Linked DNA regions of Homo sapiens. The protein of the gene in region 1 interacts with the protein of each later gene in a pairwise test. Each region holds a gene or a part of one and is shown in the gene's direction. Other genes may lie near its edges.

The links.
Region 2: the proteins of DRC4 (region 1) and LZTS1 interact in binary tests that used the Homo sapiens proteins (3 or more experiments, as listed by UniProt).
Region 3: the proteins of DRC4 (region 1) and EAF1 interact in binary tests that used the Homo sapiens proteins (3 or more experiments, as listed by UniProt).
Region 4: the proteins of DRC4 (region 1) and YJU2 interact in binary tests that used the Homo sapiens proteins (3 or more experiments, as listed by UniProt).

Annotation. Positions count from the first base shown.
Region 1 is NC_000016.10:90,039,671-90,045,477, forward strand, and holds the end of DRC4 (dynein regulatory complex subunit 4), read left to right. Parts: intron 1-90; exon of another isoform or gene 91-629; coding exon 630-839; intron 840-2,799; coding exon 2,800-2,865; intron 2,866-3,231; exon of another isoform or gene 3,232-3,525; coding exon 3,526-3,675; 3' UTR 3,676-5,290; downstream 5,291-5,807. UniProt on the Homo sapiens protein: Component of the nexin-dynein regulatory complex (N-DRC), a key regulator of ciliary/flagellar motility which maintains the alignment and integrity of the distal axoneme and regulates microtubule sliding in motile axonemes.
Region 2 is NC_000008.11:20,251,961-20,258,986, reverse strand, and holds part of LZTS1 (leucine zipper putative tumor suppressor 1), read left to right. Parts: intron 1-3,671; 5' UTR 3,672-3,805; coding exon 3,806-4,150; intron 4,151-5,401; coding exon 5,402-6,205; intron 6,206-7,026. UniProt on the Homo sapiens protein: Involved in the regulation of cell growth. May stabilize the active CDC2-cyclin B1 complex and thereby contribute to the regulation of the cell cycle and the prevention of uncontrolled cell proliferation. May act as a tumor suppressor.
Region 3 is NC_000003.12:15,423,559-15,430,612, forward strand, and holds the start of EAF1 (ELL-associated factor 1), read left to right. Parts: upstream 1-4,039; 5' UTR 4,040-4,221; coding exon 4,222-4,324; intron 4,325-4,763; exon of another isoform or gene 4,764-5,069; intron 5,070-6,354; coding exon 6,355-6,449; intron 6,450-7,054. Other genes in the region: tRNA N(3)-cytidine methyltransferase METTL6, read right to left, coding at 1,397-1,531, 2,729-2,953. UniProt on the Homo sapiens protein: Acts as a transcriptional transactivator of ELL and ELL2 elongation activities.
Region 4 is NC_000019.10:4,242,266-4,250,100, forward strand, and holds the start of YJU2 (splicing factor YJU2), read left to right. Parts: upstream 1-4,814; 5' UTR 4,815-4,881; coding exon 4,882-4,905; intron 4,906-6,962; coding exon 6,963-7,063; intron 7,064-7,835.

The DNA of each region.
Region 1 (5,807 bases):
GCCACCACACGCTGCTCAGGGTGTTCACTTTTTTATAGTCTTCAACAAAGTCTAGATTTTTTTAGAATGCACAATTAATAAGTAGAAGAATTAGGAGATAAAAAAGAACAGTTTTACTGGCTGGCAGGTAGCTGGCTCCAAGGCCGTGCTCCAGATCCACCATTTGTGGGGCGGACAGCACATGTGATGCCAGGATCTGGGGCTGGCCAAGGGAGCATATCCTCCAAGGGGCCCCACCTGCAAGCTCGGCCTGCTGGATGCCCTGGATCTCAAATCTCACCTGAGCCCACAGCCCTCACTCGGGCAAGACTGGCCTCGGCCACCCATGAAGCAGCTTTCAGGGTGGGGCTGCTTCAGCTCTTACCAGGACACTTATGGCTTCCAGAGACACCTTCCTGAGAGAAGGGCTTATGCTGATGTGTTCCTCCTGCCTTCCACTGCGTGGATGGCTCTACAAAGGGCCAGGGCGCAGGCAGTGTGGACAACACACTGACCCCGGTGCTGTGGGAGTGGGCACTGTTGGGAGGCAGCGTGTTCCAGGCAGGTGCAGAGGTGGGAGGCAGCATCTTCCCAGCGAGATGTCCCCAGGTGAGGGGCCTCATCGCCCACCCCCAGCGCTGTCCCTACAGGTGCAGCAGGAGCGGGACGAGCTCTATCGGAAGTTCACCGCAGCCATCCAGGAGGTGCAGCAGAAGACAGGGTTCAAGAACCTCGTGCTAGAACGCAAGCTGCAGGCTCTGAGCGCCGCTGTGGAGAAGAAGGAGGTGCAGTTCAACGAGGTCCTGGCTGCCTCTAACCTGGACCCTGCAGCCCTGACGCTGGTGTCCCGCAAGCTGGAGGTAGGCCCTAGACAGGCTCCTGACCCCAGTGGGCGGCCTCATCCCTGTGGCAAGAGTCTTCAGTTCTGTGCTGCTCCTCGGATAGGCACAGAGACCCCTCGGTCGGCCACTGAGGAGGGGCATTCATGGGTTTCCTGTGGCCAGTTTCGGGCCAGTTGGGAACTGTGGAAGGGCTGGGCAGGGGAACCAGATCAGGGCCCACTCTGCTATTGATGGGGAGCACAGGGCTGGAGGGGGCTGGTTGGGGCCAGCACAGAATGGGGACGGGCAGAGGGTTGGAGAGCCGCCAGGAGGCTGAGTCCACAGGTGGGGCTGGGAGGGGCCGAGGTGACTTGGTGTTTGCACATGGGGGAACGACGGGTCCCGGCCCAGTGGGCGGTGGTGCCTGTGGGACCCTGGTCATCTGGGATGGCCTGGCTCTCAGGGCCTGAGGTAGTGAGGCTGTATAGGAGGGGCCTCACCTGGGCCAGAGGCACTGTGGCCCCGGGACTGAAAACTCATCTTTGTTTGCTCAGCACTGGGCCCAGTGAGCACAGGCAGGTGAGGGAGTGAGGGTCCCACTGTTGGGAGGTGGGGGAGGCGTGTTTCCAGCTCCTGGCTGAGGGCTGCACCCAGCCTGCTGCTAAGCCACCGAAATGAGGGTGAAGAGAGCAGTCGTGGCCTGTGAGGGTCATTGCAGCTGCGCCCACGCGCCAGGGTGAGGATGGAGGATGGAGCTAAATGTGGGTCAACCCCTCCTTTCCTGGTCATTGTTACCTCGACTTCTAAGTGAGGAATCTTCTGGGGAAATGACAGAGGCCCCCGCAGGGACACTGTTTGCTGCTGGCCAGGTGTGAGGGGGCTGCTGTGTCAGTGGGCAGCAGGGACGGCTCTAAAGCCAGGCTGGGCCCAGCAGTGCCCCACAGGCAGGAGCCCAAGAAGTCCCTGCCTCGCCACGTGGTGAGACCCTTGCCCACATCTGGGCGGGGCCAGCGCTGCTGAAGACTACTTTTTTCTGTTACAAAAAAGTGGGATAGCCGGGCGCGGTGGCTCACGCCTGTAATCCCAGCACTTTGGGAGGCTGAGGTGGGCAGATCACGAGTTTGGGAGTTCAAGACCAGCCTGGCCAAGATGGTGAAACCCCGTCTCTACTAAAAATACAAAAATTAGCTGGGCTTGGTGGCGGGTGTAATCCCAGCTATTTGGGAGGCTGAGGCAGAGAATTCCTGGCACCTGGGAGGCGGAGGTTGCGGTGAGCCTAGATCGCGCCACTGCACTCCAGCCTGGGCAACGGGGCGAGACTCCATCTCAGAAAAAAAAGTGAGATAGTACATTCACAAGCCTCAAGAAATTTAAGCAATATGTAGGTGGTGTTTAGTGACCAGTCTCCACAGTGTGGCTGCACGCTGCCTGCCCTCACCTCATCTGCATTTCTTGTGGTCTGGACTGCTCTTTGAGTTTTTTCTTGAGACGGTGTCTTGCTCTGTCACCCAGACTGGAGTGCAGTGGCTCAATCTCGGCGCACTGCAACCTCCGTTTCCCAGGTTCAAGCAATTCTCATGCCTCAGCCTCCTGAGTAGCTGGGATTACACAGGTGTGAGCCACCGTGCCCGGCTACTTTTCGTATAGTAGAGACGGGGTTTCGCCACGTTGGCCAGGCTGGTCTCAAACTCCTGACCTCAAGTGATCTGCCCTCCTTGGCCTCCCACACTGCTGGGATCACAGGTGTGAGCGGCAGTGCCTGGCCTGGACTGTTGCTGGAGAGGCAGGTTGTGCAAGCTCCCAGTTCTCTGCTTCTTCCTTGTTTTCTCTCCACCCTTGGAGACCTTTTTCTGCTGACAACCCTGTGTGGATGGATGCATCCATCAAACCAGGCTGCTATTCGCTGGATCTCTCAGAACGCCCACTGGAGTCCCCAGGCCGCTCCCGTTGCCTCGGCCAAAAGATGAGTCTCAAACTCCCATCACCTCTCTCTCCTCAGGATGTTCTTGAGTCGAAGAACAGCACCATCAAGGACCTGCAGTATGAGCTGGCCCAGGTCTGTAAGGTACGGCTGTGCCCTGCCCTCCCTCAGGGGCACCCCCTCGGTGCCCAGACTGTTCTAAATGCAGACGGTCTCTGAGGACCCCACCTGTGCCCACTTCGTACCTCGTTTGACAAGGCAGCTGTCACTGTCCCCACGTGAGGGTGCAGTCATAGCCGAGAGCATCTGGATTCTGTGTGGTCTGGGGCAGTGCACTGCTGTCTAGGCCATGTCTCTGCTGGGATGGGTGTAGGGGGGGACCTGGACGCTTCCCTGGTCAGCCCCTTCCCCTGGGCAGGGAGTCAGAAGGTGCTGTGCCCACCGGGGAAGGAAACAGACGTCATTCAACAGGGGAAGGGAGGGCGTGAAGAACCTGAGTGGGAAACACCCAGCCAGGGCCCAGAGCCCTCCCAGACCACAGCTCTGCCCTGAGTGTCCCTGCCCTCTGCCTCCGTCTCGTCATTTGTGGAATAGGAATAGTGACAGCCTCTCCCTGTCGTGCTACCTGAGCCAACGCAGTGAAGGTGCTTGGAGCTGTGTCCCACACGGGAAATGACTGATAAGCCTTTGGCTTTATCCTTCTGCACCGTGATGCTCACGCTGCCCCTCCATGGAGCTGCACTCAGCTCTGGTGGTCCTGAGCGTGGGGACCCTCAGCTCCCTGACACTGCCCTGTCTCCACAGGCCCATAACGACCTGCTGCGCACGTATGAGGCAAAGCTGCTGGCCTTCGGGATCCCTCTGGACAACGTGGGCTTCAAGCCCTTGGAAACAGCTGTGATCGGACAGACACTGGGCCAGGGCCCCGCGGGACTGGTGGGCACCCCGACGTAGCTGCCCCCCTGGGGGGCCACAGCCCAGAGAACCAGCCTAGGAACACTCGGGATGACACCCCTTATCACACCAAGGACAGCAAGTTTTTTAGATTTTATCATCAGCAAATGAAAGCTTTTCACATGTTCTTGCCATCCTCTTTCCTGGCTCTGTGGAGGAGAACCACCTGCAGGACCCTCACCCATGGTGTCCCTGTCGCTCCCTTCCCTGGGTGCCGCACGTCCAGCCTGTGTCCAGGCCTACTCCCTGGTCTCACCTCCGACCACAGTCGGCGGCACCTTCTCAGAGTGCCCCGCACTCACCTGGGGGTTGGGGCAGTGCCGCGCTGTGCTGCCTGTCTTCGCGCCACTGTTGTCCCACCGAATGGACAGCTTTGCAGGTGCTGGCACTAACTTCATTGACACCTGAGTCACAGCTGCCCAGTGGGATTCTCCAGGGGGCCGGGACTTCCCTAGGAAGTGGTGAGCCAATGCTCCCTGATGAGCACAAAGCCCGCTCTGTTGAGGGCTGGGTGGGTGCAGCCAGCGTGCGGGAACGGGCAGGCAGCCTCCCGCTGCCAGTCTTCGCTCTAACTCCCTCGGTAGGTGATGTAGGACCAGGGGCACGTGGAACTTCTGGGCCTTGCTGGTGATGGTTAAAACAACCTGAGATGGAGAGGCCAGGAGAGAGTATAAGGGGATAGCAGCAAACCACCTATCTGGCCCCAACACACCTGAGAGAATTCAGCAGCCCAGACTGAGGGTCTGGGATGGGGTGAACCTTCCGCACCAGAGGGACACTCCACAGAAGCCACAGCCCAGTAAGTCAGGCGCTTCTGCGGCGGCTCCAGTGTGGGGTGAGGCAGTGAGGTTAGGCCCAGAGAGCTGGAGTTGGCTCAGATGAAAACCTCTGTCAACAAAGAGGGGATGAATCACCCTTGGCCCAGCCTCCCCACAAAGCCTGACCCTGGGCAGGTGAGTGACGGGTGTGTCCTCGTAGAGTCTATTGCTGCCTGGACACCTTTCTTTTGGGAGCTCAAAGCAAGTGAGCTCACCTACCTGCCACCGCCCAGGACCAGTCTGCCCACTGCCTAAATGATGCCCGGCCAGCAGGACCTGGCCTGCAGATCCCAGTGAGTCATGAGCCTCAGCCCCCTCCAGCCCACTGGGGCTCTCACCTCCACATGTGGGTAGAAGCTTTCCTGCCCCCTCTTCCTCCAGTAGCCCTCAGTGTCGAAGGTGAGCTTGTAGGTGCCTGCCTTCATCTGGTCCAGGACAGTGACCATCTGGGTCTGTGTAGCTGGGGAGAGGATGAGGCTGCAGAGATGGGGACCAGAAGCCCCCCACCCCAGCTTTCCTGGGTCTGCATCCCAGTGGGCCTCAGACACTGCCCTGCCACCTGTCAGACTTGGGTGAGCAGACACAGTGAGGCTGTTAGGTCCTGCAGTTCCAGAGCAGTCTAGGGACACCACTGCCCTGTCTTTAGGAAATCACAACACAGAGAAGCAAAAAGGGAAAAAGTCTCCCACAATTTATCCCATGAGCAAGAACCACTTTATAGCTGGCATATATTTTTCCAGATTTTCTCTATGCATAAGTATATTTGTTTAAAAACTTATAAAGTGGATTATACTATTTGTATTGTTTTATAACCTGTGGTTTTCACTTAAAATATTGTGTATGGCTGGCTGGGCGTGGTGGCTCACACCTGTAATCCCAGCACTTTGGGAGGCTGAGACAGGCGGATCATGAGGTCAGGGTATCGAGACCATCCTGGTTAACACGGTGAAACCCCATCTCTACCACAAAAAAATTAGCTGGGCGTGGTCACGGGCACCTGTAGTCCCAACTCGGGAGGCTGAGGCGGGAGAATGGCATGAACCCAGGAGGCGGAGGCTGTAGTGAGCCGAGATCGTGCCACTGCACTCCAGCCTGGGCGACAGAGCGAGACTCCATCTCAAAAAAAAAAAAAAAAAAAAAAAAAAAGTGTGTGGCTTTCTGGGTCAATAACTACCAAACCTTCACCCACAGAGTGGGCCTGTCCAACTCCACGGAGCGTCTGTGTTGTGTGCCCTGGTCCCTTATCAGGGTTCTGAATAACCGTGGCTTTGCCCATAGTCACTTCTGGAAAACCTCCCATCATTCTTGCCAGCT
Region 2 (7,026 bases), on another chromosome or scaffold:
AGCTAGGGATGGATGACCTAGGGGGATGAAAACACATTTTGTCAGTGTCAAGTTTATATCAGCAGAGCCACCCTGTGCTCCTAAGTCACACCTCGCAGGAATGGGAGGCAGAAAGGTTGCATTTAGAAGGAAAGGATTAGCTCTGGAAAGTGAGTTTGGACATTGAGGCTCCCCAGATCCATAGGGATGATGGATGTTGGCAAGGACAATGGTCACAATATAAGTAACAGATACCGATAACACTGCCTAGCATTTATTGAGTGCCCACTATGTACTAAGTATTGAGTAAATGTTCCAGAGCTGTTATCTTATGGTGGTATTTCTTAAATTTCTCATAACGATCCTATGAGGTAGGCTGCTTCACTGTATTTCCTCGAGTATACAAAGCCATCAATTCAATAAAAGCTTTTCACATCAAAACATATTAAACTTACACAACGAAGTTTTGTTGTGTCATGCTTTTCCTAACAAAATATAGAACATATTCATAACATAACCTCTTTATTCTTCAGGATGATAACGCAAGTTTGAATCGAAGCCTAGATATTCAGAGTCACAGAGTCTCCATGCACAACTGCTAATTGTAAAAAATATATATATAATAAAATTAAAATTAAAAAACAGAGTCAGAAAGTTTCTGGCTCCCTTTCAGCTGTGCCCATGCAGTTCTCCATGTCCCACCTGGGATTTCTTTAGCCCCTTTAGGATGGATGGTATAATTTAGAGCTCAGCGAAGAACAGAGGCTCCTTCCACATCTCCTGTTTTATTAAACTTGTGGCTTTCCCCTTCTTAATTGGATATCTGTCTTTTGACTAAGAAATACTTCACAGTGCATGACAATCACCAACCTTTCCTAGCTTTGAAAATTGTGTGATCTAAACTTAGAGATTTGCCTGAATCTGCACATGTGCTGGCACTGACATCCCAATTTCTCCTGTCTGGTGACTGACAAGGTTGTTATTGTTTAAGCATTGATTATTAGATGCTATCCTATTACTTTAAAAAAAAAATGTGCCCAGTCCGGTGGCTCACGCCTATAATCCCGGCACTTTGGGAGGCCTAGGCAGGTGGATCACCTGAGGTCAGGAGTTCGAGACCAGCCTGGCCAACATGGGAAAACCCCATCTCTACTAAAAATACAAAGATTAGCCAGCCAGTCATGGTGGTGCTCACCTGTAATCCCAGCTATGTGGGAGACTGAGGTGGGAGAATCATTTGAACCCGCGAGGTGGAGGTTGCAGTGAGCCAAGATCATGCCACTGCACTCCAGCCTGGGCAACAGAGTGAGACTCTATCTCAAAAAAAAAAAAAAAAAAAGTTTAAGGGTGTCTTAGAATTAGTTTGTAACACTGAAGGTTAAAGATATTAAACAGTTTACCTTCCATGTCATAGCTGGCAGGTGATGTAACTAGAATGCACACCAAGTCGGCTGGGTACTTCTCAACATTAAGGCTGTAATGACTTTCTCCTTCTTTCTCTCTTGAATCTTCTCAATGAGGCCTTCCTTCCACCATTCCTCCAAAACTGCTCTTGTCAAGGTTACCAAAGATCTCCACATGGCCAAATGCATTGACTAATTCTCAATTGTTATCTTACTTTCAGCAGCACTTGACAACTTTTTTTTTTGAGACAGGAACTCAGTCTGTTGCCCAGGCTGGAGTGCAGTGGCGTGATCTCAGCTCACTGCAACCTCCGCCTCCTGGGTTCAAGCTATTCTCATGCCTCAGCTTCCTCAGTAGCTGGGACTACAGGTGCGTGCCACCATGCCCAATTTGCCTGGCTAATTTTTTATATTTTTAGTAGAGACGGGGTTCCACCATGTTAGCCAGGCTGGTTTCAAACCCTTGACCTCAAGTGATCTGCCCACCTTGGCCTCCCAAAGTGCTGGGATTACAGGCTTGAGCCATTGCGCCTGGCCATTTGACACCATTTTTAGGAAACAATTTCTTGACTTGGCTTTCTTAGGTCTTCTATATCGACATCACCCTGAAAACCTTCTCTGCTGCTCTTTTTCACTTCTCCTAACCTGCCTGACCTCCAGATGCCGAGTGCTCCATGTTAACCATCCTCAGGCCTCTCTTGTCTTTCTGCATCCGCTCTTTGGTGACCCCATCTAGTCTCATAGCCACTTCCACACTCCCAGCTCTGACAAGTGCATCTGCAGCTCCCAGCAGCTGCCCACTCACCCTCCTGCCTACTCTCCATCACTCCCTGGATGCCAAATAGGCTTTGCAAACTGAATGTCTTCAACCAAACTCCTCTCTTTGGCATTGTCCCTGACTCCTCTCTTTCGCTCACTCCCTACATCTGATCCTTTAGCAAGTCCTGTCAGCTCAACCTCAAAATTACATTGAAAACTGTTTTTTAGAGACAGGGTCTCACTGTGTTGCCCAGGCTGGTCTTGAACTCCTGGCCTCAAGTGATCCTCCTGCCTTGGCCTCCCAAAATGCTGGGATTACAGACGTGAGCCACCACCACATCTAAATCCACAACTACCACCCTAGACTATTAGCCTGTAATTGGCCACCACTTCTATCCCCCGTCTCCTCAATAAGCTTCTTCCCCACCCGGAAGCCAGAGTGACCTTCCCCAACCTAAGGCAGATCAAGGTGTCAGCTGCTTAAAGCCATCCAGGGGCTCCTTGTCTCAACCCAAGCAAAGCCAGAGCTCTTTGAGCTGCACAGCCTCCTTGTTCTCTGATGTCTGCTGGCTCCTGGTTTCTGTTTCTCCTTCCCAGCCTTGCTAATTGTTCTCCAGCCAGGCTGCTTCCCATGTGGGTCTCACACAGCCAAGCCCCCTCTGCCTCAGGGACTCAGGCTTTTATACTTGGGGTTTCTTCTGGTACCCCTCTCCCCCTAGATTTTCATATGACTTGCACCTCATTTTCTTTTCTTCTTCTTCTTTTTTTTTTTTTTTTTTTTTTTTGAGTCAGGCCCAGGCTGGAGTGCAGTGGCACAATTGTGGCTCACTGCAGCCTTGATCCCCGGGGCTCAGACGATTCTCCCACCTCACCCTCCCAAGTAGCTGGGATTACAGGTGTGCACCACTACGCCCGGCTAATTTTTGTATTTTTAGTAGAAATGGGGTTTCTCTAAGTTGCACAGGCTGGTCTCGAACTCCTGGACTCAAGCAATCTGCCCACCTCAGCCTCCCAGAGTGCTGGGATTACAGGTGTGAACCATCATGCCTGGCTGCCCCCTCATTTTCTTGAAGCCTTTTAAAATGCTACCCTAACAAAAGAAGACCTTCCTGCATAAAACAGCCACCTCCCAGAATTCTGTTCTGTCCTCTCTGCTCCAGTTTCCCCCGCAGCACTGGTACCCGCAGCACTGGTACCCGCAGCACTGGTACCACTTGCTATAGTATACATTGGTTTGCTTCTGGCCTCTCCACACCACTGTAACCCTAAGTTCCAGGAATGCAGGGACTGTGACTGTTTTAGTCACTTGCTGGGTCCCGAGTGTTTAGAGTAGAGGCTTGCATGAAGTGGGCTCCCAGTGAATGTTTGTTGAATTATCAGACAAAGGAAGAAGGAACGGAGCACCCGGTGGTGGAGACAGTGCTGGGCTCTGACATGTGTTTCTCTACTGCCCAGATCTGGAAGTCGGAATCAGCACTGTGCTGTGACCACTCCCACCCACGCTGACTTCTGTCTTGTGTCTTCTTCCAGGTCTACGGCTCTCGCAGGCTCTGTGAGGGCTTTGCTATGACCTCAGTCCCCTCACGGAGCCACGACTGCCCCTTGCTGCCACAGCCTTTCCAAGACCCTGCCCGGCCCTGCCCCATCCTCAGCCCCGAGTCACCATGGGCAGCGTCAGTAGCCTCATCTCCGGCCACAGCTTCCACAGCAAGCACTGCCGGGCTTCGCAGTACAAGCTGCGCAAGTCCTCCCACCTCAAGAAGCTCAACCGGTATTCCGACGGGCTGCTGAGGTTTGGCTTCTCCCAGGACTCCGGTCACGGCAAGTCCAGCTCCAAAATGGGCAAGAGCGAAGACTTCTTCTACATCAAGGTCAGCCAGAAAGCCCGGGGCTCCCATCACCCAGATTACACGGCACTGTCCAGCGGGGATTTAGGGGGCCAGGCTGGGGTGGACTTTGACCCGTCCACACCCCCCAAGCTCATGCCCTTCTCCAATCAGCTAGAAATGGTAAGCGGGGGTCGCTGGCAAGGGTAAGTGGGTTGGAAACGCAGGAGAAAGCAAAATGGGGGTGGAGAGCCTGGGGGTTCAGGGGGAGTGGTGACCTGAGCATTCAGACTCCTCAAAACCAGAGCGGCAGGGGTGCCGGCGGAAGCCTGTGGCCACACCGCAGAGATCAAACGTTTCACAAAGGAATTAGAGCATCGCTCAGTCCCCCTGAAGCAGAAGTCTTGGGTCAGGCCATAAGCAAAGAGCACAGGGGATATGTGAGCTTTCTGGAGTCCCACTGAAATGTAGCTGGATTGTCAACGTAGGATCCAGGCGTTTGCCAAGCCTCGGGAAGGAGAGGGAGCCCTGTTCTCATCTGGAAGCACAGATGAAGAGGATGCAGGCCGGGAGTTAACCGCTTCTCTCCCCGGGAGACTCGTGGGGGTGGGTGCGGTCTTCTCATTTGCTGCCCTGGTGTGCATTAGCTCCTTGTTCAAGCTGCGCCTGGGGGCATCTTTGAATACAGGCTGGAGTTTTGTCATCCATTTACCAGAGATTAGGGCAAAGGAGGCCCAGGCACTGAGAAATCCAGCCCTCACACCAGCTCAAGCCCTCGTGCGTCCCACGAGTGGACACTGAAATCAATTTTCCTATTCAGTCCTCTGCCCCTTGCCCTGGGGAAATGAATCCCCGGCTTTGATTTACTAGGAAAGAGCCTCTTATGTTTGCATAGAGCATTCAGCTTTTCAAATTAAGGGGCTTGTAAACTGTGAAGCACTCTACCAGGGAAAATTACAGTTTTAAAAAAGGATCGTGATTTGGAGTGAGCCTCCCAACCCTGTAAGGAGGCCAGGTCCGTGTCCTTGCTCCAGGCTTAATGGAAGAGGCAGTGAACAGGAAGAAGGGATGGACCTAAAGAGGGACAGCAAGCTCGGCCAGCCTGATGCCCTAACTTGCCCCACACAGAGACCTAGAGCAGGAGCCTCAAGATGGTATTTATCACCTCGGGAGGGCTGGGGCAAGCTGGTGGCAGGTTGCTATTTCATAGAACAAAGTGCCCAAGTCGCCATTAGGGTTTTTCCTTCCTAAGAGAGATGACATTCAGCTGCTTCAAAGCAACAGGCAAGGTCTGCTGAGACAATTGACCAAGAGGGGTGCTGCGTGCGCTCAGAGAGCCCAGACTGGCTCAAGGTCGGCACGCGTGCCTGGGGAGGGAGGGTGCAATGCGCGCGCAGGGGAGGCATGAGTCACCGCGGTCCTTTTCCTCTACAGGGCTCCGAGAAGGGTGCAGTGAGGCCCACAGCCTTCAAGCCTGTGCTGCCACGGTCAGGAGCCATCCTGCACTCCTCCCCGGAGAGTGCCAGCCACCAGCTGCACCCCGCCCCTCCAGACAAGCCCAAGGAGCAGGAGCTGAAGCCTGGCCTGTGCTCTGGGGCGCTGTCAGACTCCGGCCGGAACTCCATGTCCAGCCTGCCCACACACAGCACCAGCAGCAGCTACCAGCTGGACCCGCTGGTCACACCCGTGGGACCCACAAGCCGTTTTGGGGGCTCCGCCCACAACATCACCCAGGGCATCGTCCTCCAGGACAGCAACATGATGAGCCTGAAGGCTCTGTCCTTCTCCGACGGAGGTAGCAAGCTGGGCCACTCGAACAAGGCAGACAAGGGCCCCTCGTGTGTCCGCTCCCCCATCTCCACGGACGAGTGCAGCATCCAGGAGCTGGAGCAGAAGCTGTTGGAGAGGGAGGGCGCCCTCCAGAAGCTGCAGCGCAGCTTTGAGGAGAAGGAGCTTGCCTCCAGCCTGGCCTACGAGGAGCGGCCGCGGCGCTGCAGGGACGAGCTGGAGGGCCCGGAGCCCAAAGGCGGCAACAAGCTCAAGCAGGCCTCGCAGAAGAGCCAGCGCGCGCAGCAGGTCCTGCACCTGCAGGTACTGCAGCTTCAGCAGGAGAAGCGGCAGCTCCGGCAGGAGCTCGAGAGCCTCATGAAGGAGCAGGACCTGCTGGAGACCAAGCTCAGGTCCTACGAGAGGGAGAAGACCAGCTTCGGCCCCGCGCTGGAGGAGACCCAGTGGGAGGTGAGGCCACACAGGGCTCATGGGTTTGGGTGGTCAGCGGTTTGGCGCCAGTACCCCCCTCTCCTTCTGGTGCCGGCCAATAGCGTGCAAACACAGACCGCGCAGGCAAGCGGGGCTAATGTGCTGGCTTTATCACCCAAAGAAGGGGCTCCCTGCAAACCATGTTGGGGGATCGACTTACATCTGAGCTTCCTCCTGTCCCCACCATCACCCTCATGGCTCCTAGATTTCAGTTTCCCAAGTGAGCCATTAAATCATGAAGCCGGAAGCCAGATGACCAAGGCCCAGCCAGGCTGTGGGCTGACCTCCCTTCCATCAGCTCCCAGGAGGCTCAGAAGAAGAACAAGCCGTGCCTGAGTTCAGGCGGGGCCAGGGGCCCAAGAGAGCACAGAATGCATTTGTTGCTTTGGAGGGAGGGACTGCACCCACTAGTAAGAGGGACCCTATTGGTGGCAGGTTTCAGTGATGGAAGTGGCCACTCCTTGCTGAAGTGTAAGTGGAACTTCTATTTGGTGAGCTGAGATGGAAACCTAGGAGAGGAAGTAAAGAGTCCCCCACTCACACACTTACACACTCACACACACTCACTCACCCGGTCACACGTGGAAATGAGGCATCTGTACCTGACCGTGCTGGAGAACCCCATAACCTCTGCATCTATTAGTGGGAAAGCAGCTTTTCTCACCAGCCTGGTGGTCTGGATGACTCATGGAGTTCAAGCCCATCGTTGAGGCTCTTTACATGCTCGCACCCAGCTTGGTCTGTCCACGTGCCTGCCTCACCCCCAGTTCAGAGTCCAACTCTCAGTCTACACGCAAACC
Region 3 (7,054 bases), on another chromosome or scaffold:
CTCATCTCTACAAAAATTTAAAAACTAGCCAGGGTCAGCTGCCATGGCTCACGCCTGTAATCTCAGCACTTTGGGAGGCTGAGGTGGGAGGATTGTTTGAGCCCAGAAGTTCGAGACCAGCCTGGGCAACGCAGTGAGACCTTATCTCTAAAATAAATAAATAAACAAATAAACACTAGCTGGGCACGGTGGCACATGCCTGTAGTCCCAGCTACTTGGGAGACTGAGGTGGGAGGATCTGCTTGAGCCAGGGGGGTCAAGGCTGCAGTGAGTTGTGATTGGGCCACTGCACTCTAGCCTGGGTGAGAGTGAAACCATGTCTCAAACAAAAACAAAAACAAAAACCAGCTATAAAAGACACCTGGAAGCCAGGTACAGTGGCTCATACCTGTAATCCCAGCATTTTGGGAGGCTGAGGCAGGTTGATCACCTGAGCCCAGGAGTTTGAGACCATCCTGGGCAACATAGTGAGACCCCATCTCTACAAACAATTAAAAAATTGTCTCTGCTACTTGAGAGGCTGAGGTGAAAGAATCGCTTAAGCCCAGGAGGTTGAGGCTGTGGTGAGCCATGTTCATGCCACTGCATTTCAACTGGGTGACAAAGAACCCATCTCTAAAAAAAGTAAAAAATAAAACTAAAAGACACCGGGAACTATTTGGGGAAATCTGAATTTGGAATGGATGTTAATAACATTGGGGGATTATGTTATTTTATTTGTTTATTTAAAGACAGTCTTGCTCTGTCACCTAGGCTGGAGTGCAGTGCTGCAATCTTGGCTCACTGCAACCTCCACTTCCCTGACTCAAGTGATCTTCCCACCTCAGCCTCCCAATTAGCTGGGATTACAGGTAAGCACCACCATGCCCAGCTAATTTTTGTATTTTTGGTAGAGACAAGGTTTCACCATGTTGCCCAGGCTGGTCTTGAACTACTGGGTGCAAGCTATCCACCAGCCTCAGGCTCCCAAACTGATGGGATTACAAGTGCGAACCAACATGGCAGGCCAGATTATAGTTATTTTTGTGAAATATGATAAACTTATTGTGGTTGTGTAGAAAAAGGCCTTTTTTAAGGGGAGATGTATGCAAACATTTAGGAGTGAAATGTCTTGACATTTGTAATATACTTTAAAATAGTTCAGCAAAGAAAAATTGTAAAGCAAAAGATGTTAATTATATGGATGTTATTATGGTATTTTTTCCTGCTTTTCTTGAATAAAGCTGTGTTTCTACATGCACTGTATATGTATGTAAGCAGGACAACTACATGTATGGTGACTATAGCTGGTTAGCTCCAGGGAAGACTAGAATTGGGCAAATGAATAAAAAAGGCAGATCAAACAAGATCGGCAAGAAAACAGAAACACAGCAGAATACATAGATGGTGCACCAACCTTAACATATTCAATGGCTCTTGGAGAAAAATCACAGGCATAGGCAAAGATATTCGGATCTTCTTCTAAAAGTGGGAATAAACAGTTTCCAACCCCACAGCCAGCTTCAAGCATTGTTAACTTTTGATCTTCAAACTGGGGAAAGACAGCTCAAAGTTATAGTATATCACATTTGCATAATGAAGAAATAAACCAAACTAAAAGGTCCAGAATATGAGAGGTCTCCGACCCCATGGAGCAGACGATCAACAAGAGAACTAATAAGCAAAAGCTAATACTGGTACTTCATTTGTCATCCAACATTAACAATTTGGTGTGGAGGAAAAAAACAGCACAATGGCTAACTCGGCTCTGGAGTTAAACTGCCAGCACCCAAATCTCAACTCCTCCCCTGCATTCTATCCTTGGGTAAATCACTTAAACAGCTCTGTGCCTCAATTTTACCTTGGGGACAAATGAGTACAATACTAATACTTACACTTCACAGAGCCGGTATAAGGGTCAAATGATAGGCCATGTAGAAAACAGCCATGGTAAATAGTTACTAACATTAACTATTATATTATTCTGAATCTGTCACTGAAGTCACTTAGCATGAATTTATATTTTTGTTTTTAAAATTTTTAATGTTTAAAATTTTAAAATTCAGAACATAGGGTCTCACTATGCTGCCTAGGCTTGGCTAATTCATGTTGACTATTCACAGGCACAAGCCGCCTGCCTCAGCCTCTGGAGTAGCTGGCAATAGCCACCAGACCTGGCTCTTGAATTTAATATATAATGTTTACAACTATCAGATCAGCTTAAAGAAATAGAAAACACCCACTAAAGTTCTCTCTCCTATATGTTAACCAAACCAGAAACTGCTAAAACTTTGGTGTTAAGACCAAACAGTATATTTCTCTCCTAAAACGCAAAGCATTTTGATAGGCTTCTTAAATTCTCTACTTCGCACTCTCCCTAGGAATGCAATACAGCACACCTCTTCACATTTTTTTTTCTTTTGAGACAGAGTCTCGTTCTGTCACCAGGCTGGAGTGCAGTGGCACAATCTCGGCTCACTGCTATCTCCGCCTCCCGGGTTCAAGCGATTCTCCTGCCTCAGCCTTCCAAGTAGCTGGGACTACAGGCGAGCACCACCACACCCAGCTAATTTTTGTATTTTTAGTAAAGACGGGGTTTCATCATGTTGGCCAGGATGGTCTCGATCTCTTGACTTCGTGATCCGCCTGCCTTGGCCTCCCCAAGTACTGGGATTACAGGCATGAGCCATGGCACCCTCTTCACATTTTAAATGAAGAACAGCTCAGATAAGGCGTAATATTAGCTTACCTCTCTACATGATCTTAGCTCCTCAAACTCTCTGGTGGTCCAGTGTCTGTCTTTGAAGAAATTAGTGCTATTTCTTTTGTAAAAAAGATCCCAATTTTTCTGAGCCTCTTGTTCCAATTTCTGCTGTTTAAAATCAGACACCAAAGTTTGGTCTCTTTTCAGTTTCTCCTCTTCTTCAGAGGTGAGAATCCTTGCCTGCAGCCCTTTCCTTTGCAAAGAAGCCATCTCTGAAACTGACGGTAACACTTAACACAGCTGAAGATTCTCCATCACCAAATAATATGAATCCACGCTAATGGATCAGATACATTTCCTGAGGTGAGTTTCACGCCTCAAACAGCACAGGGGGCTTCGCAGAGAAAAGAATTAGATTCTGGTTAGTGGTTACAGTTCAAGACGCCAGGTTCAATTCACCAAATGTTTATGAGATGCAGACTGTACAAAAAAAAATCCTTCCCGCTATATGAGAGGTCACAAAGAAGACAAACACACAGTCCCTACCTTCAGTGGGCTTACATTCATTTCAGTGGCCAGACTATCTCATGCACCATACTTTTATTCAAACCAGATGAGTCAACTATTACAATAAATCGATTTAGTTTACGAAAAAGGACGCTCTCAAGAACTGACTGGGAAACCTTGCGAAGAAAATATTCCTCAATTTTCGGTGCCCGCGAAAGGGGTGACTTAAAAACCACAATGGCCTTAGCTGGAAGCGGGTGGTCAATTGTCAGATACAAGTGAGGTCATCGTTTCCCAAGGGTCGGACCTCCGTTTTTTCGGGGGAAATGAAGCTAAGCCTGGGTGGGCTCATTTCCTGATCACACTCACAAGAGGCTGTCATAGGAACCAGAGGGAGCGTCACTTTGCAGGGACTGAGACCCTCGCACCGCCATCACCGGGCAAAGTGGAGAAAGAGACCCAATGACGCGTGGCTGAGGTCCCGAGGATCCATCTCAGGACCCTCAGGATAGACTAGGCTGCATGGGCCCCTAGACCCTGAGGAGGGCGTCCATGATGGCTAGCCGACCCGCGTTAATTTAGTCAGCCACGCTCAGGGCTCACCGTCATCAGTTCCTAAATTCACCTGCAGGGCTAGGGCCAGGCGCACTCACCCCACAGCCAGCCCCACTGGGCCTCGGAGGCAGAATACGGGAAGAACCGCGAAACAACCCTAAACCAATTCTGAGGACCACGAATTCGGATTATCCGGGAGTTCTTTTGCCATGGCACCGCCCCCGCCACTTCCGCTAGGAACCCGGAAGTTCCTACCCGACGCCGGAAGTCCCACGGCCTTGCCTCCTCAGATTCCTCTCTCACCCCCACGCAGAGGAGAGAACTTGCTTCTGGACCCGGGTGGGTGCCGGCTCGGCTCTCCTTGTCTTCCAGAGCGGTGGCCCGGAAGCACAGTCCTCCCAGACGCCAGCGCCAGAAGCTCGGATCGCGGCTGCACCGGGAGAGCGCCGATCTGGGTGCGAGGCAGGTGCGGGGCCATGAATGGGACCGCAAACCCGCTGCTGGACCGCGAGGAACATTGCCTGAGGCTCGGGGAGAGCTTCGAGAAGCGGCCGCGGGCCTCCTTCCACACTATTCGTTGTAAGTCAGCGCTCCCCACGGTTCCCTTCGGCCGCTCCAGCCGCCACATATCAACCTTGACTCCTTCCTTTCTTCCCTCGGCCCTTCAGATTCCAGGGAACCCCCTGCCAGCGTCAGTTACTTTCTCTCGAACCCCAAATCCTTTGGGACATCGATTTGTCCCTTCTTTTACCCAGATTATTTCTCCCAAATCTTCGTCACTCCCTACTATTCTTCTACCTCACAGTCTCAAACACTAGTTCCAAAGGTCTTTGGCCTCTTTCCATTTCCATCCCTCCCCGCCCCCAACCTCGCCCCTAAGGCAAACCTCCCTCCCCCAAGGCAAACCTCCCCCCTCTTATCCGGGTCCACTTCTCCCTCGAAACCCCTCCCCTCCTTTCCGATGCTCCCATCAGGGTTCTCCACATTTAAAAGACGCTTCTTGTTTGTTATGAGCCTCATCCACTGCCTTAGAACCCATTCTCTTCCCTGCTTTTCTCCTCCGACTTGGTCCTGGACTCCCAAATACTGTGCTTTGTCCCCTCTACAGCCAAAGAATTGGCATCCTCTCTGCGCCTCATCAGAGTCTTCTTCCATCTCCTTTCTGTGCTTCATTTGACTTGGATGTCTTTTGAGGTCACCTATACCACCCGGGCTTTTCCTCCAGACCAAGTTCCTTGTGGGTAAAGAGTCAAATCAGAGTTCGTGAGCCTGGGATAGGTTAAAGATTGGTCTACGTTTGGAAGCAGAAGAGAGCAGGCGTAAGGAATGTCCAAATAGTCATTATGCCGGACCTTTTTCTACATAATTATAGACGCTGTTGAGAGAGTGCACTTCCACCCTATGTCCTGGGTGAAGGTTTGGCAGTTAGGAATTGGCTGACAGAGCATCCCTCCGTGATTCATGAACTTCTGGTTTCCGTGGTGCTAACGCTGTTGTTAAGACTTGTTTTTGTCAGAGGACCTAATAGATGTGACTCAACACATGTGAAGAGGGCGTTTTAGATAATGAAATCCCATCTTTGTGTAGTCACTTGCCATGCCATTGCTATGCTTCCTACTGACAGCAGATCCAGCTCTTTCAGAGAGAAGAGATGGGAATAAGATAAGAACATCATTTCCTGAAGAGTTTACTAAGTTGATGTTTTCTTTTGGTGAAGGGCAATGTGGAATTTAAATCATATAGTTCATGTGTGCACCTGTCCTGCAGTTTGAGGCAGGTGTGAATGTGAATTAAGATGGCTATTATGTTGTATTCTAACTGCAGTTTAGAAACACGAGCAGGATAACTTGCGGAGATACAGTTCAGTTGTCTGCTATGAACATCTACGAAGTGTCTTTGTTAAAGCTGTGGAACTGGCTGAGAGTGGTGGCTGACACTATAATCCCAGTACTTTGGGAGGCCGAGGTCGACAGATAGCTTGAGCCCAGGAGTTTGAGACCAGCCTGGGCAGCATAGTGAGACCCCATCACTATTAAAAAAAAAAAAAAACAAAAAACAGCTATGGAACTTGAGTATGGCAAATCCTAATTTTGACAGTTTCTATGCGGAATGAAATCAGCTTTTGATGATGCTGTGGCCTTTCATATTTCATATAGAGTTTACAGTCACAGAATCTGTTTCATATGCTGTTACTTTTGATCCTCACAACCCTAAAAAAGCAACTTATTATGGATGATGAGACAATTTTCCTCTCTCCCTTGGGAGAAGGGAATATCTTTGTTTAATAAAATGGCCTGTAAATTCTTTTTTCCCTCTAGAATAATCAAAAGGGGGTCAGAGGAAAAGTATGTGGAGGTGTAGATGAAACAAGATTGTCCCTGAGTTGGTAATAATTGAAACTGGATAATGGTATACCAGGTCTCATTGTACGATTCTCTCTACTTTTGTGTATCTGAAGTTTTCCATAACGAAACAGTTTTTTAAGAATTCTAAATTATTTTTATTTTCCATTCATCTGAGTAATAATTTTAATTCTTAAATGGAGATGCCCAGGAAACCCTTATTATAAGTAACCTGGTGGGTAAGTGCTTTTTTTCCTTTCCCTTTAGATGATTTTAAACCAGCATCTATAGACACTTCCTGTGAAGGAGAGCTTCAAGTTGGCAAAGGAGATGAAGTCACAATTACACTGCCACATATCCCTGTGAGTTTATTTCATTTTTTTTTTTAATGTAAGATCACAATGAATCTTTGTCTTTTATATTATTGCAATTTAAACTTCCTACTTTTAAAAATGTTTAGATTTCTAAAGTGGCAACTTAAGGAAAAAAGTAATTTTGGGGAGTGGGGTGGGGTGGACTTCATGCTAGGCAGGTGCTTGATTAAAAATAATTCTTGTAATCCTAGCATTTTGGGAGGTGGAAGTGGGTGGATAGCTTGAGTTCAGGAGTTAAAGACCAGCCTGGGCAACATGGTGAAACCCCGTCTGTACCAAAAATACAAAAAATTAGCTGGGGGTGATGGCACATGTCTGTGGTTGCAGCTGCTTGGGAAGCGGAGCTGGGAGGATCGCTTGAGCCTGGGAGGTAGAGGTTGCAGTAAACCAAGATCACGCCACTGCACTCCAGCCTGGGCGACAGAGTGAGACTCCCCCTCAAAAAAAAAAAAAAAAAGATTATTCGTCGTTTTCCCCAATCTTCCTTTTCCCCCATCTGCTACTGAGTAGACAAGGTTCCTGTCTGGACACCTAGCCCCTCTTTTAGATATAGCTTTTCTCCCAAGCAACTCCAGACAGAAAAGCCCTAGGTG
Region 4 (7,835 bases), on another chromosome or scaffold:
AGATGAGACAAATGTAAGTTTCAAGTTTTAAGACTAGGGAGGATCCATTTCTGTGTTTATTCAAATAATCATAAGTATTCGTTTTATGGAACAATTGGACCAGTTTCAGAATGTTTCCATGAGCTGAGCAGACAACATTAGGGGTTCTTTTTCTTTCTTTTTTAAAGTCTGTTAAACCTTCCATTTTTTTTTTTTCCCGAGACAGAGTCTCTCTCTGTCACCCAGGCTGGGGGGCAGTGGCGTGGTCTTGGCTGACTGTAACCTCCGCCTCCTGGATTCAAATGATTCTCTTGCCTCTGCCTCCCAAGTAGCTGGGACTACAGGTGCCCATCATCACACCCGGCTAATTTTTGTATTTTTAGTAGAGATGGGGTTTCCCCATGTTGGCCAGGCTGGTCTTGAACTCCTGACCTCATGATCAACCCGCCTCAGCCTCCCAAAGTGCTGGGATTACAGGAATGAGGCACCATGCCCGGCCAAACCTTCCACTTTTGCAAAGCAGGTTTTATTTATTTATTTTGAGACGGAGTTTCACTCTTGTTGCCCAGGCTGGAGTGCAGTGGTGATCTCAGCTCACTGAAAAAGAGGTTGGTTTTATAGACAGAAAAAGGCTGAGTAAAGCAGAAATAGAAAACAAAAAGTGGATTGGTCTTTTCAAAGTTACTTTTCTTGTCAAGTTTAGAGCAAAGGAGACTATCGTGCTGGCTAAAACAGGCCTGTTCAGGGATTTTTTTTTTTTTTTTTTTTTGAGACAGTCTCGCTCTGTCACCCAGGCTGGAGTGTAGTGGCACAATCTTGGCTCACTGCAGCCTCCACCTCCCGGGTTCAAGCGATTCTCCTGCCTCAGCCTCCCAAGTAGCTGGGACTACAGGCGTGTGCCACCCTGCCCAGCTAATCTTTGTATTTTTAGTAGAGACAGGGTTTCACCATGTTGGCCAGGATGGTCTCAATCTCCTGACCTCGTTATCCACCCGCCTCCCAAAGTGCAGGGATTACAGGCATGAGCCACAGTGCCTGGCCTTTTTTTTTTTTTTTTTGAGACAGAATCTGGTTCTGTTGCCTAGGCTGGAGTGCAGTGGCATGATCTGGGCTCACTGCAATCTCCGCCTCCCAGGTTCAAGCAATTCTCGTGAGTCAGCCTCCCAAGTAGCTGGGATTACAGGCACCCACCACCGCACCCCGCTAATTTTTTGTATTTTAGTGGAAACGGGGTTTCGCCATGTTGGCCAGGCTGGTCTTGAACTCCCGAGCTCAGGTGATCTGCCTGCCTCTGTTCATGGATTTGACTATTCCCTCTCTTTCTCTCTCTCCCTCTCTCTCTCTCTCTCCCCACTTCCTTCCAGTTCTCGATTTCTTGGAAAACCAGAAAAACAACTTAGTTTCAGCTTGGTGTAAAACTTCCGCATGAGGGACTTCATTTTGGTTTAGTCTTTTGGGCCTAGTGCAGGAGCTCAGTCCAAACCCATGGCTTCCTGTAAACTTTATTTAACACCATTCCTTGTCCCATATTATTGTCTTCCTGGTGCCAGGAAAAGGGGTCCCTAGCTGGGTGTGGTGGCTCACACCTGTAATCCCAGCACTTTGGGAGGCTGAGGTGGGTGGATCACCTCTTGAACACCTCAGGAGTTCAAGACCAGCCTGACCAACATGGAGAAACCCCGTCTCTACTAAAAATACAAAATTAGCCGGACGTGGTGGCACATGCTTTTAATCCCAGCTACTTGGGAGGCTGAGGTAGGAGAATAGCTTGAACCTGGGAGACGGAGGTTGCGGTGAGCCGAGATTGTACCATTGCACTCCAGCCCGGGCAACAAGAGCAAAACTCCTCAAAAAAAAAAAAAAAAAAAAAAAAAAAGGAAGGCTACTCAGTTACAAAGTAGGGCGTCCTCAGAAAACAAGAGGAGGAACGCCTTGTCTTTGTTTTAAGGTTTTTATTTTTATTTTATTTATTGATTTATTTTTGAGATGGAGTCTTGCTCTGTCACCCAGGTACAATGGCACGATCTTGGCACGATCTTGGCTCACTGCAACCTCCACCTGCCAGGTTCAAGCGATTCTCCTGCTTCAGTCTCCTGAGTAGTTGGGATTCAGGCATGTACCACTGCGCCCAGCTAATTTTTATATTTTTAGTAGAGACGAGGTTTTACCGTGTTGGCCAGGCTGGCCTTGAACTCCTGAGCTCAAGTGATCCTCCCACCTCGGCCTCCCAAAGTGTTGGGATTACAGGTGTGAGCCACCATGTACAACCGGTTTTTTCTTATATAGGGGTCTTATCTGTGTGAAAGCTATGTCCACGTGTAGGTGGGCTGACCGCGTGACAAAACGTAGTACTTTGTCGACTTAAAGAAAGTTATCCTGGCTGGGTGCAGTGGCTCACACCTGTAATTGTAACACTTTGGTAGGCCGAGGCCGGCAGATCACTTCAGCCCAGGATTTCCAGACCAGCTTGGGCAACATGGCGAAACCCTGTCTCTACAAAAACTGCCAAATATTAGCCAGGTGTGGTGGTACCTATAGTTCCAGCTAACTCGGAAGGCTGAGGTGGGGGATCGCCTGAGCCGGGAAGTGGAGGCCACAGAGAGCCATGATTGCGTTACTGCACTCCAGCCTAGGTGACAGAGCGAGACCCTGTCTCAAAAAGTATACATACATATCCTTGCCATTTTAGTGCCTAAGTACATTACACCATGACTATAACCATATTTTCTTTTTTTTTTTTTGAGATGGAGTTTCACTCTTGTCACCCAGGCTGGAGTGCAATGGCGCCATATCGACTCACCGCAACCTCTGCCTCCCAGGTTCAAGTGATTCTCCTGCCTCAGCCTCCCAAGCAGCTGGGATTACAGGCATGCACCACCATGCCCGGCTAATTTTGTATTTTTAGTAGAGACAAGATTTCTTCATGTTGGTCTGGTTGGTCTTGAACTCTCGACCTGCACCACCGCACCTGGCTAATTTTGCATTTTTAGTAGAGACGGGGTTTCTCCGTGTTGGTCTGATTGGTCTTGAACTCCTGACCTCAGGTGATTCGCCCACGTCGGCCTCCCAAAGTGCTGGGATTACAGGCGTAAGCCACCATGCCCGGTATCTTTTTCTTTTTTTTCTCTTTTTTTTTTTTTTTGAGATGGAGTCTCACTCTGTCGCCCAGGCCACAGGGCAGCGGCACAATCTCGATCTCAGTTCACTGCAACCTCAGCCTCCTGGGTTCATGCAATTCTCCTGCCTCAGCCTCCCAAGTAGCTGGGATTACAGGTTCCCGCCACCACGCCCGGCTAATTTTTGTATTTTTAGTAGAGATGGGGTTCCACCATGGTGGCCATGGTGACCAGGCTGGTCTCGAACTCCTGACCTCAGGTGATCCACCCTCCTTGGCCTCCCAAAGTGCTGGGATTACAGGCATGAGCCACCGCGCCTGGCGACTATAACGATCTTAAAAGCATACATTGCTATGCAATATCAGGACATCTGGACCTTCCATTGTTGTAGTAGTGTGTCCTCCTAGGCATTTGTAAGACGTTTTCTCAATTGTAAACATCTTATGACCCTGGCTCGTGACTGGCAGCGAATGTGCCTTGTTAATTTTAAGATGGAGTTGATTTTTGGCCAGGTGCAGTGGCTCATGCCTGTAATCCCAGCACTTTGGGAGGCAGAGGCGAGCAGATCACCTGAGGTCAGGAGTTCGAGACCTGCCTGGCCAAAATGGTGAAACCCCATCTCTACTAAAACTACAAAAATTAGGCAGGTGTGGTGGTGCGTGCCTGTAATCCCAGCTACTCGGGAGGTTGAGACAGGAGAATCACTTGAATCCTGAGGTGGAGGTTGCAGTGAGCCAAGATCGCACCACTGGAGGCAGAGGTTGCAGTGAGCCAAGATCGCACCACTGCCCGTCAGCCTGGGCAACAGAGCAAGACTCCTCAAAAGATAAATAAATAAACAAACAATTGCCACAGCAACATCAAGAAGTTACCCTATATGGTCTAAAAAAGGGAGGTATGAATAATCCACCCCTTGTTTAGCATATCATCAATAAATCACCATAAACATGGGCAACCACCAGCCCTTGGGGCTGCTTTGTCTGTGAAGTAGCCATTCTTTTATTCATCTACTTTCTAAATAAACTTGTTTTTGCTTTGCACTGTGGACTCGCCCTGAATTCCTTCTTGCACGAGATCCAAGAACCCTCTCCTGGGGTCTGGATCCGGACCCCTTTCCTGGAACAATCTGACACAGAGGAAACGTCCATGAAAGGTGGGGAGGAGGCTGGGGAAGGAGGCTGGGGAAGGAATGGGATGGGAAGTCCTCGTTAAGGGGAAGGCACAGGTGGGCAATGGAGGGACATTTGGGAGACACTGCGTATGTTTAGGAAGTTGGTTTGGAGCCTGATCTTTAAGTCAATGTCTGTGACTCAAGAGTCGTCCAGGGTCCTCTTAAGTCACCCTATGTGTGGCCCCAACCCCATGTGAGAGTTGCGGGCCCAGGAACGATGTGTGGATTCCCAGAGCCCAGAATACAAGGCAGGCGCATAATACATATTTGCTGAATAAAAGAATGAAGAACAAGAGGTCACGTTACAAAATTTTAACGAGCCGCTGCCCGCTTCTAGGGGGCGCAGCGCACTATACAAAATTCTCCAATTCCACATGGCTCCCGGAATCCTTATTTCGCGCTACTCAGGTTGCAACTCCGGAGGGAAGACGCTGGGACTTCCAGCTTGATAGGCGGGGATTGGAACCAATGAAAGAGGTCTGCTGTGTATGCTGCAGCCAATAATAGCGGCCGAAGGAAGTGACGTTTGCGGAAGTAAGGCTTCCGTCGGAAAAGCTCGATAATTACCCAGCCTAACCATTTCTCAGGTGCTTGCGAGGTGATCAGAAGGCAAAGATGTCGGAGCGAAAAGTATTAAACGTAAGTGTTGGGCGACTGGGGCTTTTCAATCGGAGCAGGACATCCCGGAACTCCGGGAGAGGGAGGAGCTTCCTGAGATCTCTTCTTTGGAACCCTTCTTTCCCAGCGGCCTTCCGCGAGATGGGGCTTCCCAGACTCCTCCCTAGACTCCTCCCCATCGCCTTCCGTCGGGGGGGTGGGCCTTCGCTAAGTCTCCCTTCTGGGCTGGGGTGTAGTTAGTCACCTGCGGGGCGTGGCTTGGGCTTTTACCCAATCACCACCAGATAGGGTTTTTTTTCTGGGGGCGGGGCTTCCTTAAATGCTGGCGGCCGTGTTTTGCCCTCTTCTTGAGGGGCGTGGCTCTGAGAAGCCCCGCCCCACTTGGGGACTGTAACCAATCGTGTACTTTGGGTGGGGTGGGGTGGGGTGGCGCGTGTGTGTGTGTGTGTGTGTGTGTGTGTGTGTGTGTGTGTGTGTGTGTGTGTGTGTGTGTGTGTGTGTGTGTGTGTGTGTGTGTGTGTGTGTGTGTGTGTGTGTGTGTGTGTGTGTTTTGTTTTTTTTACTGGGGTCTGGTCATGCAGATAACCTCTGCCTTACAGTGGCCAAGATTTTACTGGGGTCTGGTCATGCAGATAACCTCTGCCTGACAGTGGCCAAGATTCCAGACTCCCAGAAGAAAAGCAGAGGTTCAGTATAAACTATACTGTTGGCACACTTCTGTTTTTTGGTTTTTTGAGATGGAGTTTTGCGCTTGCTTCCCAGGCTGGAGTGCAGTGGCACGTTCTTGGCTCACTGCAGCTTCTGCCTCCTGGGTTCAAGCGATTCTCCTGCCTCAGCCTCCTGAGTAGCTGGGACTGCAGGCGCCCGCCACCATGCCTGGTTAATTTTTTTTGTATTTTAGTAGAGATGAGATTTCACCATGTTGCCCAGGGTGGTTTTGAACTCTTGATCTCAGGCATTCCACCCACCTCATACTCCCAAAGTGCTGGAATTACAGGCGTGAGCCACCGCGCCCGGCCCCACGCAGGTCTTTCTAGGAGAGCAGTCTCAGGCTTGCTGTAGGAACTCCTGGGAAACAGGAGCCCTGGGATACAAAGGGAGTGTGAGTATGGATTATGACAGATACCTCCACTGCACCACTGGAAAATAAAGCACTTTGTGTTTGGAGCACCTACTGGGTGCCAGACACTGCAAAGAGCACTTTATCCCCCTTGCCTCAAGGAATGCGTGCAAAGACTCTTGGAGACAGAGGACAGTGTGCGCATTTCACAGAGGAGTAAACTGAGCCCTGCAGGTTTCAGCTCCTCAGGATTCAGATCCAGGGAGATGACTCTGTAGGAAACGGATGTAGTATCGTGATTGGGAGGCTGAGCTAACAGAGTCCTGGTTTACCCTCTACAGAATTGCTGGGGAGTTGGGACTCCTCGGGGAACTCGGTCTCCTGCCTGAACAACAGAAGTGCTAAGCAAAGCTTAACCTCTACAAAGGGCAGGGCATGATGGCTCACGTGTGTAATACCAGCTCTTTGGGAGGCCAAGGCAGGTGGATCACCTGAGGTCAGGAGTTCGAGACTAGCCTGGCCAACATGGTGAAACCCCATCTCTACTAAAAATACAAAAATTAGCGGGGAGTGGTGGTGGGCGCCTGTAATCCCAGCTACTGTAGAGGCTGAGGCAGGAGAATCGCTTGAACCCAGGAGGCGGAGGTTGCAGTGAGCCAAGATCGCGCCACTGGACTCCAGCCTGGGCAACAAGAGCAAAACTCCGTCTCAGAACAAAAACAAAAACAAACCCTGGCTTTTTAGAGCTTCCCGTGTAGACAGCATTTCATGTGTATTGTCATGACTGGTATTTAGGAGAATTAAATGCGTCCTGTATAACTCCACTAGGAGAGAGTCAGGAAGCTTGTGCCTGGCCTCCCTCTGACTGTACTGAGTCCTGCGAGTCCTCCCTGCCTGTCGCGGAACCTGGGGTGGGCTTGGGGACCCCCGACACAGCTCCCCAGAGCCCCTTCCCTCTGCCATGTCCTGCCCCTGCTTCTGAAAATAACTCCCCCAACGTTTCCTTCCTCCCCTGCAGAAATACTACCCGCCGGACTTTGACCCATCAAAGATCCCCAAACTCAAGCTCCCCAAAGACCGGCAGTACGTGGTGCGGCTGATGGCCCCCTTCAACATGAGGTGAGCACCCCCTGCGTGACCCCACACACCAGTCATGGCTGAAGGACGCAGTGCCTGGCATCCACAGAGGTGACTCGTCCGGTGTTAAGACCAGATCACTGGTCTTAGACATTGTCCTGGCTCAGACATTGACCATTCCAACCCTCCTTCGCCTCACCACTTGGGATTAAGCTTTGGATCTTTTAGAGCCCTCCAGCCAGTGCCTGCCTTGAGATCATGGTGGTTAGTAAACGTGTGTGCAGAGAGGATAGGACGCCACAGAGATGCAGCCCCATAGATATATTTCAGCTCCTCCAACAGCCAAGCTCGTTCCTACCCCAGGGCCTTTGCACACACTGCTGCCCCTGCTTGGAACTCTCTCCCTCTACTTTCTTTCTTTCTTTTTTTTTTTTTGTTGAGACAGAGTCTTGCCGTGTTGCCCAGGCTGGAGTGCAGTGGCGTGATCTCAGCTCACTGCAACCTCCACCTCCTGGCTTCAAGCGATTCTCCTGCCTCAGCCTCCCAAGTAGCTGGGATTACAGGCGTGCACCACCACGCCCGGCTAATTTTTGTATTTTCAGTAGAGTTGGTGTTTTACCATGTTGGCCAAGCTGGTCTCGAACTCCTGACCTCAGGTGATCTGCCCTCCTTGGCCTCCCAAAGTGCTGGGATTGCAGGCGTGAGCTGCCGCACCTGGCCTTCTCCTTCTACTTACACATGGCAGGCTCCTCTTGTCTGCCATAGGTCATGGCTCCAATCTCACCCCTCCGGGAGGCCTCCATCATCCCCTCAC